2 separate regions of the Homo sapiens genome follow, and region 1 is linked to region 2. The links come from fine-mapping of genetic effects on gene expression. Tissue or cell type: skeletal muscle. Region 2 holds a variant in brackets; the other region holds the start of a gene. All regions are shown on one strand. Distances are between the middles of the regions.

Region 1 (8,162 bases), 130 kb before region 2:
AGAAAGGCATGAACCTGGGAGGTGGAGCTTGCAGTGAGCTGAGATCATGCCACTGCACTCCAGCCTGGGTGACAGTGCAAGACTCCGTCTCAAAAAAAAAAAAAGTCTCTCTCTCTCTATATATATACATACATACATATATCAAAATAACCTATAGTATTCTAATGTGCACACACACCCACCCCTAAAATAATCTCAAAACAAAAATTTTTTAAGTAAAAAAAATTTCACAAAGTTAAATTTTACTAGCTGGGCATGGTGGCTCACATCTGTAATCCCAGCACTTTGGGAGGCCAAGGCAAGTGGATCACTTGAGCTCAGGAGTTCAAGACTAGCCTGGGCAACATGGCAAAACGTCATCTCTAGAAAAACTACAAAAAATACTCAGGCATGATGGATACGGCCTGTACTCCCAGATGCTTGGGAGGCTGAGGTGGGAAGATTGCTTGAGCCCAAGAGGTCGAGGCTGCAGTGAGCTGAGATTGTGCCACTGCACTCACTGCACTCCAGCCTGGGCAACCGAGTGAGACCCTGTCTCGAAAAAAGTTAAATATTAGTTTATCCCCTTTGTAAACAGTTCATTGAACTATCAAGACACCCAAATACCAAAATATTAACCTCTTTAAAAATATTCTTGGCTGGGCATGGTGACTCACACCTGTAATCCCAGCACTCTGGGAGGCCAAGGTGGGTGGATCACCTGAGGTCAGGAGTTGGAGACCAGCCTGGCCAACATGGTGAAACCCCAGCTCTACTAAAAATACAAAAATCAGTCAGGCGTGGTGGCAGGCACCTGTAATTCCAGCTACTAGAGAGGCTGAGGCAAGAGAATCACCTGAACTCAGGAGGCGGAGGTTGCAGTGAGCCACAATCACACCATTGCACTCCAGTCTAAGTGACACAGTGAGACTCCGTCTCAAAAAAAAAAAATTCAGATCAGGACTCCCTAAACTCATAAAATACATGTGGAAATCTTCTCCAGGGAGAACTGCTAGAAAATGGACATTATATAAATGATTAGTACACTCAAATTAATGAGTTCCTGATATTTTTATGCCCATAACTCTGACGAGCATTGTTGACAAAGGGTTACAAAAAAGTCTAATAATGGGTTCCCTGCCTTCAAATGTGTAATCTTACGAGTAAAGAGTACCACCTGACTGGTCTTTCCTAAGTTCCTTGTGCATACATAATATGACGAAAGACCACATGAAAATCAGAAATCACATTCAAGGCCAAAATAAATCAGGTTACACGCAAATCTCTTAAAACAAAGTTAACTTCTGCCTCTTCTTTAAGACAAAACAGGTAGACATCTTTCAGTTATGACCATTTTACAAGTTGAAAAATTATAAAGGTTCAATAGAACTTATTCAACAGTAACACTCACCACGCCACTGCAAGACTTTGTTTTCACATCCAGTTTCACCAACCCAAAACCTTCAACAAATAGACAGCAAAAGAAACAAAATGATTCCTTTGTATGAAAGATGCATAGCAATTGTTGACTATACATAAAAAACAAAAAGATTCCACATATTCAGAGGTGGATAAAAATGTGTTAATATACAATATTTAAATGAAATTGTTACAAATTCGTCTTTTGTAAACTGGCTTATAAAGGGCAGAATTATCCCTATGCTGCTTTGTCTAGTTTTTGGTAGTTGGTACACAAAAGAATGCTTTCAAATTATTTATTTATTTATTTATTTATTTTGAGACGGAGTCTCACTCTGTTGCCCAGGCTGGAGTGCAGTGGCACGATCTCAGCTCACTGCAACCTCCACCTCCTGGGTTCAAGCGATTCTCCTGCCTCAGTCTCCCGAGTAGTTGGGACTACAGGTGCGTGCCACCACGCCTGGCTAATTTTTTGTATTTTTAGTAGAGATGGGGTTTCACCGTGTTAGCTAGGATGGTCTCGATCTCCTGACCTCGTGATCTGCCCGCCTCGGCCTCCCAAAGTGCTGGGATTACAGGTGTGAGCCACCACGCCCAGCCCCCAAACTATTCTTAAACTTAAATATCAGATTAAAAAATCATTCAACTGAAATTTCAGAATAGCTAATAACTTATCATGATATGGCCAGGTGCGGTGGCCCACGCCTGAAATCCTAGCACTTCGGGTAGTCGAGGCAGGCAGACCACTTGAGATCAGGAGTTCAAAACCAGCCTGGCCAACATGGTGAAACCTCGTCTCTACTAAAAATACAAAAAAAAAGCTGGGCATGGTGGCATGTGCCTGTAATCCCAGTTACCAGAGAGGCTGAGGCAGGAGAATTGCTGGAACCCAGGAGGCAGAGGCTGCAGGGAGCCGAGATCACGCCCCTGTACTCCAGCCTGGGCAACAGAGCGAGATTCCGTCTCAAAAAAAAACAAAAACAAAACCAACTTATCATAATACAGACATTTAGGACATTTATGCCAATGGGGTATTTCCAACAGTCTAAATAAAGGGGAGGAGGGTATGGAACAAAATTTTCAAGAAAACTCAAATTCACCTGAAAAAGCTCATAACTCTAGATAAAGTATTAGGAGTCACCACAAAAGCAAAACAGTAATATATCGTAACTCTAGTCAACCAGGGCCTAAGCTATAACTGAAAAAAAATTAAAGCACGAGCCGTTTTTCTTAAAGGCTCAAATCTTCTAAGTACAGTTTTTAAAAATTTTGGGAAATTGGGGGAGGGGGATGTAGACTGTAAAAGAACTATTTTCACATAAGTTTAATCTAAGTATCTTAAGTTTCTAATAGAAGAATTAATACAAGGCTGGGCACAGTGGCTCATGTCTGTAACGTAATCCAACCAGGCTTTGAGAGGCCACTGTGTTTACTGGGTAACACAGTGAGACCCCACCTCTACGAAAAATAAAAAAAATTAGCCAGGTGTGGCAGAGCGTGCCTGTAGTCCCAGCTACTTGGGACGTGGGAGGCTGAGGAAAGATGATCGCTTGAGCCCAGGAGGTCCAGGCTGCAGTGAGGTATAATCATGCCACTGCATCCAGCCTGGGCAACAGAGGGAGACCCTGTCTCAAAAAAATAAGTAACTCTAAATTTAAAGCAGCAAGATATTTACAATTTGCAATGATTGATCTGATTTCGCTAAGCAACCCAAACATACATTTTCACTCTTTATCTAAAACGTTTTAAAAATAAGGTTCTTACCAAATCCTTTGTTGAAAATATCTCTGGCAGCTTTGCCAAGGTCAGCATATGATGGAGGAATACACATTGCTGGTAGAAAAAAAACATTCCAGTGTTAATGTCTCTATTCTCCCACCTTCTATCCAAGAACAAGAGCATGACCCACTGCTGATATTAAAATTCAAGCAATCCCATTTGTTGGAATGTTTTTTATGCGGTCAGGAGCTACAATAGAACTATAACGACCCATAAAGGAGATACCACCAACGAATTATTTCTAAAACAGATAACCATGATTATACAAACTTGGGGAATTCGTTTCAAAACGGAAAAACAGTCTATTACCTACAGCCTCACTTCCTAGGACTGGACAAGTACAAAGAATCAAACAAGTATTTGTGTGTATGGATATTTATGTATCTGCCAAAATTCACTGAGATGAGCTGATTTAACTAAATTAGATAAAACCGAAACCTAAGACTAGGCCCTTTACCCTGATACGTCCTTTAATATCTTCGCTGAGGGGAAAACCAACACCCTGGAGTGGGAAGAGAATTTAATACTGGGAATTTAAATATTGAAACTTGGAAAAAATACTGCCATGTGTGTTTCACTCAAATGTCTACATCAACTAAATATCAAATAGCGCTTCAAACTTACTAATGTGACTCTCAAGTCCTCGGCCAATGCTGTGCTGCTTAAGGGCAGGCAATCTGAGCTCATTACACCAGCTCATTCATTCCACAAAGCACGTCCACGCCCTTAGGAGCACAAGTAATGACCTTGCGCTCTCACAAGAGGGACTGCTACTTCCTCTAGAAAAGTGATTGATCCGATCCTCCAAAGGCAGAATCCCCAATTAACAACTTTTTACTTCTATACGTCAAAGACATGTACAAAGGCTGAAAAGTCCATGCGGCCACAGACCAACTCCCCGGGCCTTGTTCCCCATTTGAAATCCAGCAGCCCAGCCCCTCCTCCGCAGAGGAGGTGGTCAGACGGTGGGGCGACCACCAAAAGCAGCCGAATTTCCAAGTTCTTGGAAAGATAGGGGGAAACAAACTGGGTTTCTGGTCGACAGGCTTCGACTCTCCGCCGCCCCATCCCGCAGAGATCCCAGCTTTACTTACGACGCGCGCAAGTCTGTCCGTGGGTCGCCATGGCGAGGCCGCGGGAAGAGGGGAATCTGCGGGAGGGACAAGAAGTGCGGTAAGCTGGGGTCAAAGGGCCAAAGGGAGATCCCGGGCAGAGAGGGGCGAGGGGCCGCGGGGCAGCGCGGCCATCTTAGGAAGCCAGGGCCGACTCCGAGTCCGGCGCGGGCCTCCGGCTTGGCCGCCGCGGCCTAGGCCCCTGGGTCGGCGTGAGGCGGGCGCGGCGGTACCTGGTGGTGTCCTGAGGGGGGCCGCCGCCACCGCTCCGCTAGCTGCTGAAGCCGCTTGGCACGCTCGCGGTCGGGCTGCAGCTCCAGCAGCTGGAGGGCGAAGTGAAGGAGACACCGTTCCGCCCGCCGCAACCCTGTCCTCTCCCAGACAGGACCCCGCCGCTGCCCCCGGGGCTGTCCGCCGCGCCTGTCCCTGCAGCGCAGCCCGCTGCCAACTCCAACCTGCTCCAGAGCGGCCACGTGGACCGACAGCGCCCCGGTCCTGCAGGTGGGCTGCCTCCGTCCGTCGGTGGGGATCCGGAAGGCAGAAGCTGCTGGGCCTTGGATCAGGCAGCTATCCGGGCAGCCTCAGAGGCGAGGGGGCGGGGAACGGCGGAGGCAGCGCGCTGGGGACCGCCTGGGAGGGGGATGGGGCGGAGGCCCCGCGCGAACGCGTCACGGACGGGGCGGGGCGTCGGCGCGTGGCCGGGGCGATAGGGCGCGGCTGCGCACCAGGGTCACGTAGATCTCTCCTACTCCCCTTACGCGCTGGTGCGGGTTCCCCCCCGAAACAAAGCCCTGCATAGGGTGCCTGCGGGGAGTCAGCTGAGCGTTACCCACGTCCATCCTAAGCTAGCGCAGCCTGCGCTTCTGAGGGACCGCTTCTCTTTCCCAGCCCAGGGAGAACGAGTGGGACACAGGGGCGCCACCTCCAGCCCCTCGCGCTCTTCTGCCCTCTTTTCCCACCTTGGTGTGACTGCCTTGCTGTGCTGGGTTGTGTGCCTGAGAGGCTTTTTGGGACTGCCTCTCCCTGAACAAATGTGAGCGGGTCCTAGCGTGCCCCACCCATTTCCACGCCGCCTTACGCTTTCTCTTCCGCGGCTCCTCCCCACTCAGGCATGGCACTGCTTCACACACGCACGGAGCCGGAGCTTGGCGAGGCAAGCCTGCTCCGGGCCCAACCTCCTCTGGATTATGGGCCTGGAGAAAATGTGGAATCATGCTGAGCAGGCGTTAGAATGCCGCACCCGAGTTCCCCGGGTGTGCAGGAAGGGTGACAGAGCTATTAGATAAAATGTATATGGGAGACCGTTAGTTTAGACTGACCTCCTGCATTAGGCCCATCAGACCAAACCAAAATGGGGTTACTCATGCTGAAGTTTCACACTACCACGCCAAAGCTAGGATCTTTATCTGACCTTCCAAGAAATCAGGAGAGAAACAGATGCTAGCCAGATCCCCAAACAGGCTGGGCGCGGTGGCTCACACCTGTAATACCAGCACTTTTGGATGCCGAGGTGGGCGGATCGCCTGAGCTCAGGAGTTCCGGACCAGCCTAGGCATAGTAATACCCTGCCTCTACCAAAAAAAAAAAAAAAAAAAAAAAAAATAGCCGGGCGTGGTGGCTGGCGCCTGTAGTCCCAGCTAATTGGGAGGCTGAGGAGGGAGGATCGCTTGAGCCTGGGAGGTTGAGGCTGTAGTAAGCTTAGATGGTGCCACTACTGCACTCCAGCCTGCCCGCTGGAGTAAGACCCTGTCTCAAAACAAAAATCCCCAAACAGGTCAGTTTTAGCTGGCATGAAGAAGTCCCGTGTTCTTTAACCTTTACAAGAAAAGTAACTTTCTACCAACTAATCCACTTTTTGTTTCTGCTTTCCTCGGTCCTTTTCTGTCTGTAATACCAACTTCCTCTTCTCATTGGAACATTCATTCCATTTTACAGAATGAAGCGTTGCCCAATTGTAGAATTGGAACTAAAAGCCAGTTAAGATGTTTAAACTAAATTCTTTGTAATTTTTTCTTTTAACAGAGCCAAAGGAAAAAGAAAAAATGAGCAGTCTAATGAAATAGAAATGGGTTCAACTGGAACTCCCAAAGCAGTCATCTATCCAATAATGTCGCCGGTAGACCTCAGTGGTTTTTTTGGGTTTTCTTCTTTTTTTTTTGAGACGGAGTCTCGCTCTGTCGCCCAGACTGGAGTGCAGTGGCGCGATCTCGGCTCACTGCAATCTCCACCTTCCGGGTTCACGCCATTCTCCTGCCTCAGCCTCCCGAGTAGCTGAGACCACAGGTGCCTGCCACCACGCCCGGCTAATTTTTTGTATTTTTAGTAGAGTCGGGGTTTCACCATGTTAGCCAGGATGGTCTCGATCTCCTGACCTCGTGATCTGCCAGTCTCGGCCTCCCAAAGTGCTGGGATTACAGGTGTGAGCCACCGCGCTCGGCCTACCTCATTTTTTTAATCTATAAAATGACAAATGAAACGAAGTGATCTTTAATAGCCATCAGCCATAGTCTCTGAGCAAAGCCTTTTCCCCCTTGACTTTCTCTGGCTCTGAAAGCCATGTCTGCTCAAATGCTCTCAACGTTCTACCCTCCTCCTAAACCAGAAAAGGATAGGCTTCCACAGTTCAAAACCCAGATGAAAGCTGCAGCCTGGAAGATTTCCCTCCCATGAGCAAGCCCAGCCAGCTGTCTTGCCTGGTCATGACTGGGCTTACTCATGTTGCAAAAGGTTAGCAGAATTTACTTCTAAGACATCAGGCACCAGAAGCCCTCATTCATTCCTTCATTCGAGCTCAGACAGGTCGGTTTGCAGTCATCCTGGCTCTTCTGGGAAATAGTCTGGTATGTTTGATGTTATTGTGAGGCTAACAACAAAGACCGGCATTTCCATCCCAACTGCACCACAGCACCCTACCTCCCCGAAACACCCAGTCTGATAAATGAGTCACCTCCACTACCTGCAGCAGGGCTTATTCACAATGTGAATTTTCTGTAGCAATTTGTAGCCCCCTGCACTTCACTTTCTCTGTGGCTTCACCTTCTGCAAACCCAAGGAATGTACACAATACCTAATGACCAGGGGAAGAAGATCTGTGGCTAAACAGGGGAATAATGGCAGTTTTTTCCAGAGCTGAATTTAGTAAATAAATATGAGTGCTTACATCCAAAGTCCTTTAGACCAAAGCGGCATTAGTAGGTAGTTACTACCTACCACAAGCAACTACTTTGTGTCATCCACAGGGTAAGCAAAGTCCACTGAGACACAGTCCCTACTCTCAAGGCACTTAACAGTCAAGTGTGTGTAAAGATGTCAAGAACAGGGGAGGGTCCAAAAGTTTACCCTACTTGCAAACTATCAAGTTAGTCTGCCATAGTTTCAGAGGCTCACAGATGCTAGCAGAAGACATGAGACGTATGGGTCAAGGACAAAAGACTCTCTTACTTGTGGCCCAGCAGGCAGTGTAAGCTTCGTGTTTTGCCTCAATTCCCCCTGTCCTCTGTGTCCCTCAAGGATGATGCCAGAGCAGCTTAGGTGGATGCTGTGCACAGCATGCATTCGTGTCACAGCCAAGGAACCCTAAGCTTACAAAACCACGTGTCTTAGAAGGAGCTGCTAACAAATCTGCCCAACCTTCATACTGTGAAAGGAAAATATCTTGGGCCCCCAAGATCATTAAGCTAAAGGGAAAAGTCAAGCTGGGAACTGCTTAGGGCAAACCTGCCTCCCATTCTGTTCAAAGTCATCCTTCCGCTCACTGAGATAAATGCGTATCTGATTGCCTCCTTTGGAGAGGCTAATCAGAAACTCATTGCAACCATTTGTCTCTCACCTACTTGTGACCTGGAAGCCCTCTCCCCACTTCGAGTTGTCCCG
Region 2 (8,181 bases):
TTTCTGGGCTCAAGGGGTCCTCCCACCTCAGCCTCCCAAGTAGTTGGGACCACAGGCACATGCCACCACGCCCAGCTGACTTTTTGTAGAGACGGGGTCTCCCTATGTTACCACTCTGTTCCCAAACTCCTGGACTCAAGCGATCCTCCTGCCTTGGCCTCCCAAAGTGCTGGGATGACAGGCATGAGCCACCACACCTGGCCAGGCCATGCTTTATTTTTTATTCAAACACAGGTAGATGGAGGGCCAGGAGAGTAAGCATGGAGGAATGGAGGCCAGGTCTACTACTGCCCCTCAAGTTCCATGGGCCAGAACCAGTCACATGGCCACACCTAACTGCAGGGGAAGCCAGGAAATAGTCTAGGGTGGTGCCCAAGAAGAAGAGGAAACTGCAGATATTGATGATCATGAGCTTTCTACAGCGGGCATTAAAAAAAACAAAAACAGGCTTTGCAGACGCCACAGCCACTGGCAGGAGCCCTGTACTATCAGCCATGGTTAACCCCACCATGTTCTTTGACATCGCCGCGAGCCCTTAGACTGTGTCTCCTTCGAGCTGTTTGCAGACAAAGTTTCAAAGACAGCAGAAAACTTTCGTGCTCTGAGCACTGGAGAGAAAGGATTTGGTTGTAAGGGTTCCTGCTTTCACAGAATTATTCCAGGGTTTATGTGTCAGGGTGGTGACTTCACATGCCATAATGGCACTGGTGGCAAGTCCATCTACTGGGAGAAATTTGATGATGAGAACTTCATCCTAAAGCATACAGGTCCTGGCATCTTATCCATGGCAAATGCTGGACCCAACACAAATGGTTCCCAGTTTTTCATCTGCACTGCCAAGACTAAGTGGTTGGATGGCAAGCATGTGGCCTTTGGCAAGGTGAAAGAAGGCATGAATATTGTGGAGGCCATGGAGGGTCCAGGAATGGCAAGACCAGCAAGAAGATCACCATTGCTGACTGTGGACAACTCTAATAAGTTTGACTTGTGTTTTATCTTAACCTCCAGACCATTCCTTCTGTAACTCAGGAGAGCATCCTTCCACCCAATTTGCTCGCAGTATCCTAGAATCTTTGTGCTCTCACTGCAGTTCCCTTTGGGTGCCATGTTTTCCTTGTTCCCTTCCATGCCCAGCTGGATTGCAGAGTTAAGTTTATGATTATGAAATAAAAACTAAATGCCAAACAAACAAACAAAATATATACATACACATACACACATGTATAATTTATATGTATAATTTTTACATTTGTATTAATTTAGAAATTATATATATGTATATACAATTAAACTCTCATAAACCCTAAGAGGTAGATAATGTTGTTATTCCCATTTTACAGATAAGAAAACTGAGGCTTAAAGAGCTTAAGTAAAGTTTCTCAGGTTGCTTAGCTAGCAGGGTAGAATCATACTACCAACTCAGTCAGTGAACCTGTGTTCTTAAACACTTCGTGAGCCTCCATTCTGGATTGGCCTTAGTGACTTGCTGGCCAGGAGAATGCAGCAGAAGCAGCATTCTGGGGCTTCCGAGGCTGTCATAAGACACTTTGCATCTTCTACCTGGGTCTCTTGGAATGTGCTCTCTGGGAATCCTGAGCCACCCTGTAGAAGTCGGCCTGTGCCCCACTCTGCCATGCTGGACTGGTCATGGGTAGGCCAACTGGTTGACAGCCTCACTGAGCCCAGACACTAGACATTTGTGTGACCCTTTCTTGTTTACTCCATACCAGCATATCTGCCAGCGAAATACCACAGAGTGACCTCTGTCAATGCCACATGGAACAGCAAAATTGTTTACTGAACCCTCCTGAATTACTGACCTAAAATGAGATATCAGAAAATGCTCTTGTTTGGAGTCACTAAGTTTTGGGGTAGTTTGTTACACATCAATGGGTAAGCAGCACAGGGGCAGAGCCAGGTCTGACCAGCAGCCCTGGCTTGTAGCCACTTCATTAGCCTCCAGAGGAGTGTGTGAGTGAGGAAGCGACAGGGCGGCTACATCCATCACCCCGGTGCTGAGTGCATGGAGATGAGAGGCCCTGTGTCTACAGGGGAATGAAGACGGCAATAGAGCTCCACTGGAGACCAGGAAAGATGTTAGGGGCCCAAGGGGGATATTGGTGGCAAAGGCCTTGAGATGGGGAGGGTGGAGAGGCTACCAGAAAGAGAACCTTTCCCCACTCCTCATCCACATCCCCAGCTCTTTCCTAAGCTCCCGCCATCCTACCTTCCTCCCAGGACAATAAACTCCAGCTGAGAGGCCCGAGACCTCCTTCCTGCCCTCGGCAAGGCCTCCTGGGGGTTCTGCTGGCCTCTAGCTCAGAGCCAGTCCTTGATGACTGCCTCCTCTGCTTTCTGCCCTGGGGTGGGGAGGGCAGTTGCAGTGTGGACTCCGTAACCAGGGAGGCCTTGGGGGAAACTTGGTTGGGGAAAACTCAAGGGGAACTGGCCTACCCCATGACATCCTCCCCAGGTACTACCCTCCCTGCCAAGCAGGAGGAACCACCACCATTATTCTCCTTTGCCTCAGATCACTCTGCTTTTCTCAGCTCATTCCCCCAGGTGTCTGCATTCATCTCCTCATCCGTGCTTCTTGATCCGTATGATGTCAGGTCAGCCTGGTCTCTCTCCTTGGGAGCTGCTAGCATTTCCCCTCCTCTGAGATTTTCTGCGCTCCGGCTGCTACTTCAGAGCCTTCCATCAGCCCATTCTTCCCCCACCCCCACCCTCCCGCTCCCTCCTCAGAACCCTTTCCCTTTCACACCTGTGCAGGTGTTTGGGCTTTGCCTCCTGGACCCTCTGAGCCTGTGATGGGGCTCCTGGGACCCATGACTATGACCCCGTCAGACTAGGCTTGTGGGCTCCAGCTTAGTGATAGTGATTGCTAGGACCATCCTGACTTGGATAGTGATTGTGAGGGAGGGCCCAGGATCAGGGGCACACTTTAAAAGGAGTGCTGGAGAAGGCATCACTTCATTTGAGTGATGAACTTGCAGGCAGCAGTGCTAAGGGGGAAGCTTGGGAGTGGGGTGAAGAGGCTCTTCTGGTTCCTTTGCAGCCATGCCACATGAATATGAATGAGCACTCTGTCCAGCCTGTGCAAGGCACCCATCGTGCCAGCACCCCTTTCTGAGGGATTCCTGGCCTCACAAACTCTTTACAGGGTGGATCTGCTGTCCTAGCCAGAGACGGCTGCATTAGGATGAGCCCTGTTAAAAAAAAAAAAATTGGTGATGCTTGTTAAAGCACAGAAAGGAAGACTTCAGGACCACCGAGATGGGTATGGGGACCACAACAGTGGGATTTTGCAGTGGGAAGAAGAGATTGGGTTCAACTCTGAATACGGCATGGACAAGTGGGACTTTATAGACAAGGAGAGGGGTAGAGTTAGTGGAAGGAAAATTACCAAGAGGAAATATCAGGGATAAGAGGGATTTTGGCTAAACTAGCCTAATAGGATTTTTGCTGAAAACAGGCCAGGATGGCTCGATATCACCTGAAGAAGGGTGGAGGAGGAGAAACCTGATCAGATATGCAAGGGAGCGGGGGCAGGGAGGAGTTCCTGATAAACTGACTTAGCAGGGTTGTTGCTAAAACTCAATTTTACCAGGAAGTGCACAGGTGGGCCGAGAAGAAGGTTCAGGAGCCTGACTGAAGTTTGGTCAAGCCAAGAATCTTTGTCTGGAGCTGGATAGCGACTTCTACTTGCCTCCCAATATTTATTCTCCCCTTTACTTTGGCAAAGAGCCTCGAGTGTTATCTGGGTGGCCATGAACCCAGCTAAAGTAGAACATCTCCCAGCCTCCTTGCAGGTAAGTGTGACCAAATGACTACATTCTGGCAGATGAAACGTAAGTGGAATTCTTGTGTGGAACTTGTGAAAAGTCTCTTTGAAAGGGAAAGACTAGGCCGAGGCGGGTAGATCACCTGAGGTCAGGAGTTCAAGACCAGCCTGGCGAACATGATGAAACCCTGTCTCCACCAAAAACACAAAAATTAGCCGGCCATGGTGGTGGGCACCTGTAGTCCCAGCTACTAGGGAGGCTGAGGCAGAAGAATCACTTGAATCCTGGAGGGGGAGGTTGCAGTGAGCTGAGATGGTGCCACTGCACTCCAGCCTGGGCGACAGAGGGAGACTCCATCTCAAAAAAAAAGAAAAAAATCACCTCCGTGGTGCTGCCTGGAGTGTGAATGTGAGCGTGGGGCTCCCTGCTTGTCCTGAACCGCCTCTGCAGTCCAGGACGAGCGAGAGAGAAATGATTATCTTGAGAGAGAAATAAGCAAAGTTTATAATTTCTGAGAGAGAAAT[G/T]ATTATCTTGTTTAAGCCACTATTTTTGAAGTCTCCATTACTTGCCCCAAACCTGGTCTTAACTGTTCTGTCTCCTGACCCACAGGTAGCCAGAGGCCTGTGAGGCCCTTTCATGTAAGAGCTGCCATTGACAGGACGGGGAATTGCCCACCCAGTGAGGCGCTTTCTGGGAGAGTTTGAATGGGAGACAGAGTCAGAGGTGGCAGGTTGGGTTGGAAGGTGCCTGGAGAGAGAGATCAGGAAGCAGGAGCCAGAAGGCAGCAGAAGTCACCAAGAACCAGAGGCAGGCAGCTGCAGCCACAGGAACCTCAGAGGCAAAGCAGAGGAGAGTCTCCGTAACCAGAGCACTGGGAGGCAGAGCAGTCTGCACTTGAGAACCCATGCGGAGCCGGCCAGGGAGCCATGGCCATGCCGGGAGGCACTCCCATTGCCCAGCAGAGTCCTTGCTCTTAAGTGTGTTACTCATGAACCTCTGAGGTCACCTGAGTGGGGGTCCACCTTGTGGCATCTGAAAGAAACTCATCATTCACTTCTTGAACCTTGATAGGACCATGGGCACCACCTGAAGAGAGGGAGCACCTTTGGGAGGATGGCGGGTCGATGGATCCAGGACTGTCCCAGAAATGGGCACCACACAGAGGTATGTGGCCGATCTCACTCACTCTCCATCCAGCGCTGTCCCTCTTGAGAAGCAGCCACATGTCTCCAGCAAGGAGATCGTAACACACCCCGCCACCCACGCACCGCCACCACCAAGCTGCGCCGCTGCCTGGGGCAGGAACTGAAAGGTAGAAAGAACCGGGCCTTGGACACGGGTGGACTCGGGTTTTCGCTGCGACTCCTCCTGCGATCAGGAGCTACGACCAGCTGTGTGAACCTGAGCAGATATTGAACTCCTCTGAGCCTCAGGTTCCTCAAGTGTCAAAGTGGGAAGGATTAACAGCCTTGCGCAGCTCTGCTGGGAGGGTGGAAATAACAAAGCAGCCCAGTGCCTGGCACATAGTAGGCGCTCAGTACAAGCTTGAGTATCTCTCCTTCTGCTGAGACAATCAAGAGCACAGAAGGAAGACCTGTATCTCCATCCTTCCTGAGTGGGCGGTGGGAGGGCTGGTAACACAGACCCCAAGAGAGACGCTGTCTTTTCCTGCAGCTTCTCAGAACAGCAGTGGGGGGAGGTGCGTGAGTGAGGCAGGAGGACATAACAGGGCCATTTGAGTCTAAAAGACCCTCATCTGGCTTTACTTCACATTCTTTAAATATATGTATATAATTTACAAACTTTTGCCAAGCAGTTTCACAGAGATAACAGGCTCTGCATTCTATTATAGATTTCGTAACTATGGTTGTCAACTTCCATTAGGATATTAGGCTGTCATGACAAGCACAGCCCTCCTACGTAACACTCAGATTCTCCAGCTACTGCAGTATTTGCTTAATGAAAAGATTCTTGCAGGCTCTCCAGAATCCCTACTGATCTTTATTCTGATCCTTAATTTAGAGAAAAGGAGAGAAAAGTAAAATGCCTTACATGAAACCTCCTCACTTTTTCAACAAAGACGCCGGTGTGGTCTGGCCAAAGTATATGCATGTTCATACATGCGCACACACACACACACGCATGCATACACACCTGAAGCAGGCTTATGAGAAAAATCTGGAATGTCTTGGAATTTTTTTTTCAATTACAGCTCAATAAAAATGTCCTCATAAAATCCTAGGTAAGCAATTGCTTTGCCGACAGGATGGGGCTACCCACATCCCAGGGAAGCCTGCCTGGTGTGATTGGGGGAGGAAGGGCAGAAAACCAGAGTTGATTCCTCCATCCTCCCCCCAACTCCACCCCCCTCACACACAACAGACACAATGGGCTCCTCTAAGGAACAGAATAGCCCATGCTAGGGGGGAAGGTAGGGAGAAACCTACCTTCTTTCTGAAGCCTGTGTAAGTCTGTCCAGACAAGAGGCCAGAAGGAGGTAAGCCCTGTATTAAGCATAATATTTTGAAAATACTGAATGGCTGTACTTTTCATTCCTCTCGCCGACAATTAGGTTGTCTAGAAGTAGGGTTGCCAGATAAAATACAGGACACCCGGTTAAATTTGAGTTTCAGATAAGCAACAGATAACTTTTTAACATAAATACGTCCCAAAGAAGCATGGGACAAACTTAATCTAAAAATTTATTTGTAGGCCGGTGCAGTGGCTCATGCCTCTAATCCCAGCACTTTGGGAGGCCAAGGCAGGAAGATCACTTGAGACTAGGAGTTCAAGACCAGCATGGGCAACAAAATGAGACCCCCATCTCTACAAAAAATAAAGAAAAAAAGTAGCCAGGTGTGGTGGTGCATGCCTGTAGTCCCAGCTACTCAGGAGGCTGAGGTGGAAGGATTGCTTGAGCCTGGGAGGTCAAGGCTGCAGTCAGCTGTGATCGTGCCATTGCATTCCAGCCTAGGTGACAGAGCAAGACCCTATCTCAAAAAACAAAACACAATAACCCATTTATTTGTAAATCTTTCAACCCTACCTGGAAGTCATTTTGTCATTATTGTCCCAGAAAAATGGGAAAGGGGGGCCACATCCAGTAGGAGGAGGCCAAGAGGAGAGGATATTCTGGTAAGAAAGGAAAAGAAAGAGGATGCTTGAAGAAGAGGGAGGTGAGGAGGGGCAGCAACAGAGGTCTATGGAGGGTGACCTCCCTTCTCTAAGACAGTGTCCCAGATGTAGGTGGGGGTGCCATATAGAACGAGGAAGACACTGAAAGAGGGGGACTTTGCTCTTTACTCAGGCTTCTGGAAGATCATTTTGCACCAACGTAAACGTGTAACAGCCAGACTCAAGGGGCCCATAGCATCAAGGCCTTCTTGCCACCTTGCTTCTTGCAATAAACCCTGATGTCATCCATAATCCATCTTGGGCAGGAGAAGGGAATTTGAAGTGCTTGAGGTGTTGTTTTTTTGTTTGTTTGTTGTTGTTGGGACAGGGTCTCACTGCTACCCAGGCTGGAGCGCAGTGGTGCATTCACTGCTCACTGCAGCTTCAACCTTCTGGGCTCAAGTGATCCTCCCACCTCAGTCTTCTGAGTAGCTGGGACTACAGGCGTGCACCACTAGAACTGGTTGGTTTTTTATTTTTGTTTTTTTGTTTTTTGTTTTTGTAGAGATGTTGCCCAGGTTGGTCTTGAACTCCTGGCCTCAAGTGATCCTCCCATCTTGGCCTCTCAAAGTGTTGGAATTACAGGCATGAACCACAGCACCCAGCCCACTTGAGCTTTTAACTGGGAAGGGACTGTGGCATTATCATTTAGCCATTTAAATGTCCTCAATTCCCAGCAGGGTGGGGCCGGTCATGTGGGGAAAGGTAGAAGAGCCAAAGAAAAATAGACACCTCACATTCTTTGCACATCCCAGTGGAAAGAATAGCAGCAACATGAGGGCAGTGCACAGTGTCTCTTGTTGGTACTTTTCACTCAGATTCTAGAGTAATTTTCAGCTCGTAATAGGCAATGGGTCACTATTTGCTGTACAGGAATGGGTAGAATGAGTGAGTTTTTGACTGGTTTCAAGCCCAACTGCAGCCACGAGGGTCTCTCAGATTCCTGGGTCATGCCCGCAGACATCCTTCCCTCCTGAAACTGGCCTCGGGGACAGTCCCAGACCTTGTGCCCAGACACCCAAGTAGTGAGTTGCTTTGCTAGCCCAACCCACCAGCATCTTGTGGGAAAAGCTACAGCAGTAGGATTAGAAAGCCTTTCTTAAAACAACAATGGTTATGTGCTAGGGCCTGTGTTAAGCACTGTGTATTATTTCATTTATTCTTGAATATACAAACCCCTCAAAGTCAAAATCGTCAGATAATCCTTTATAATCCACCATCA

The links. PIP is the estimated chance that this variant, and not a neighbour inherited with it, causes the effect.
Region 1: VDAC2 starts here. The variant in region 2 is fine-mapped to the expression of VDAC2 in skeletal muscle (GTEx, PIP 0.97).

The regions. Positions count from the first base shown.
Region 1 is chr10:75,207,299-75,215,460 of GRCh38, reverse strand. It overlaps VDAC2 (voltage dependent anion channel 2), which reads right to left and starts at 4,665. Exons shown (of 10, transcript NM_001391963.1): 1 at 4,523-4,665; 2 at 4,272-4,327; 3 at 3,163-3,231; 4 at 1,391-1,440. The coding sequence starts at 4,302. RefSeq lists silencers at 4,392-4,761, 4,782-5,091, 7,196-7,490 and enhancers at 4,736-5,030, 4,761-5,342, 7,655-8,162.
Region 2 is chr10:75,082,039-75,090,219 of GRCh38, reverse strand. It overlaps the pseudogene PPIAP13. Among named protein-coding and RNA genes, the nearest start is that of DUSP29, 12 kb to the right of the region's middle. RefSeq lists enhancers at 4,868-5,368, 7,376-7,876. The variant G/T (reference allele first, on the strand shown) is at 4,310.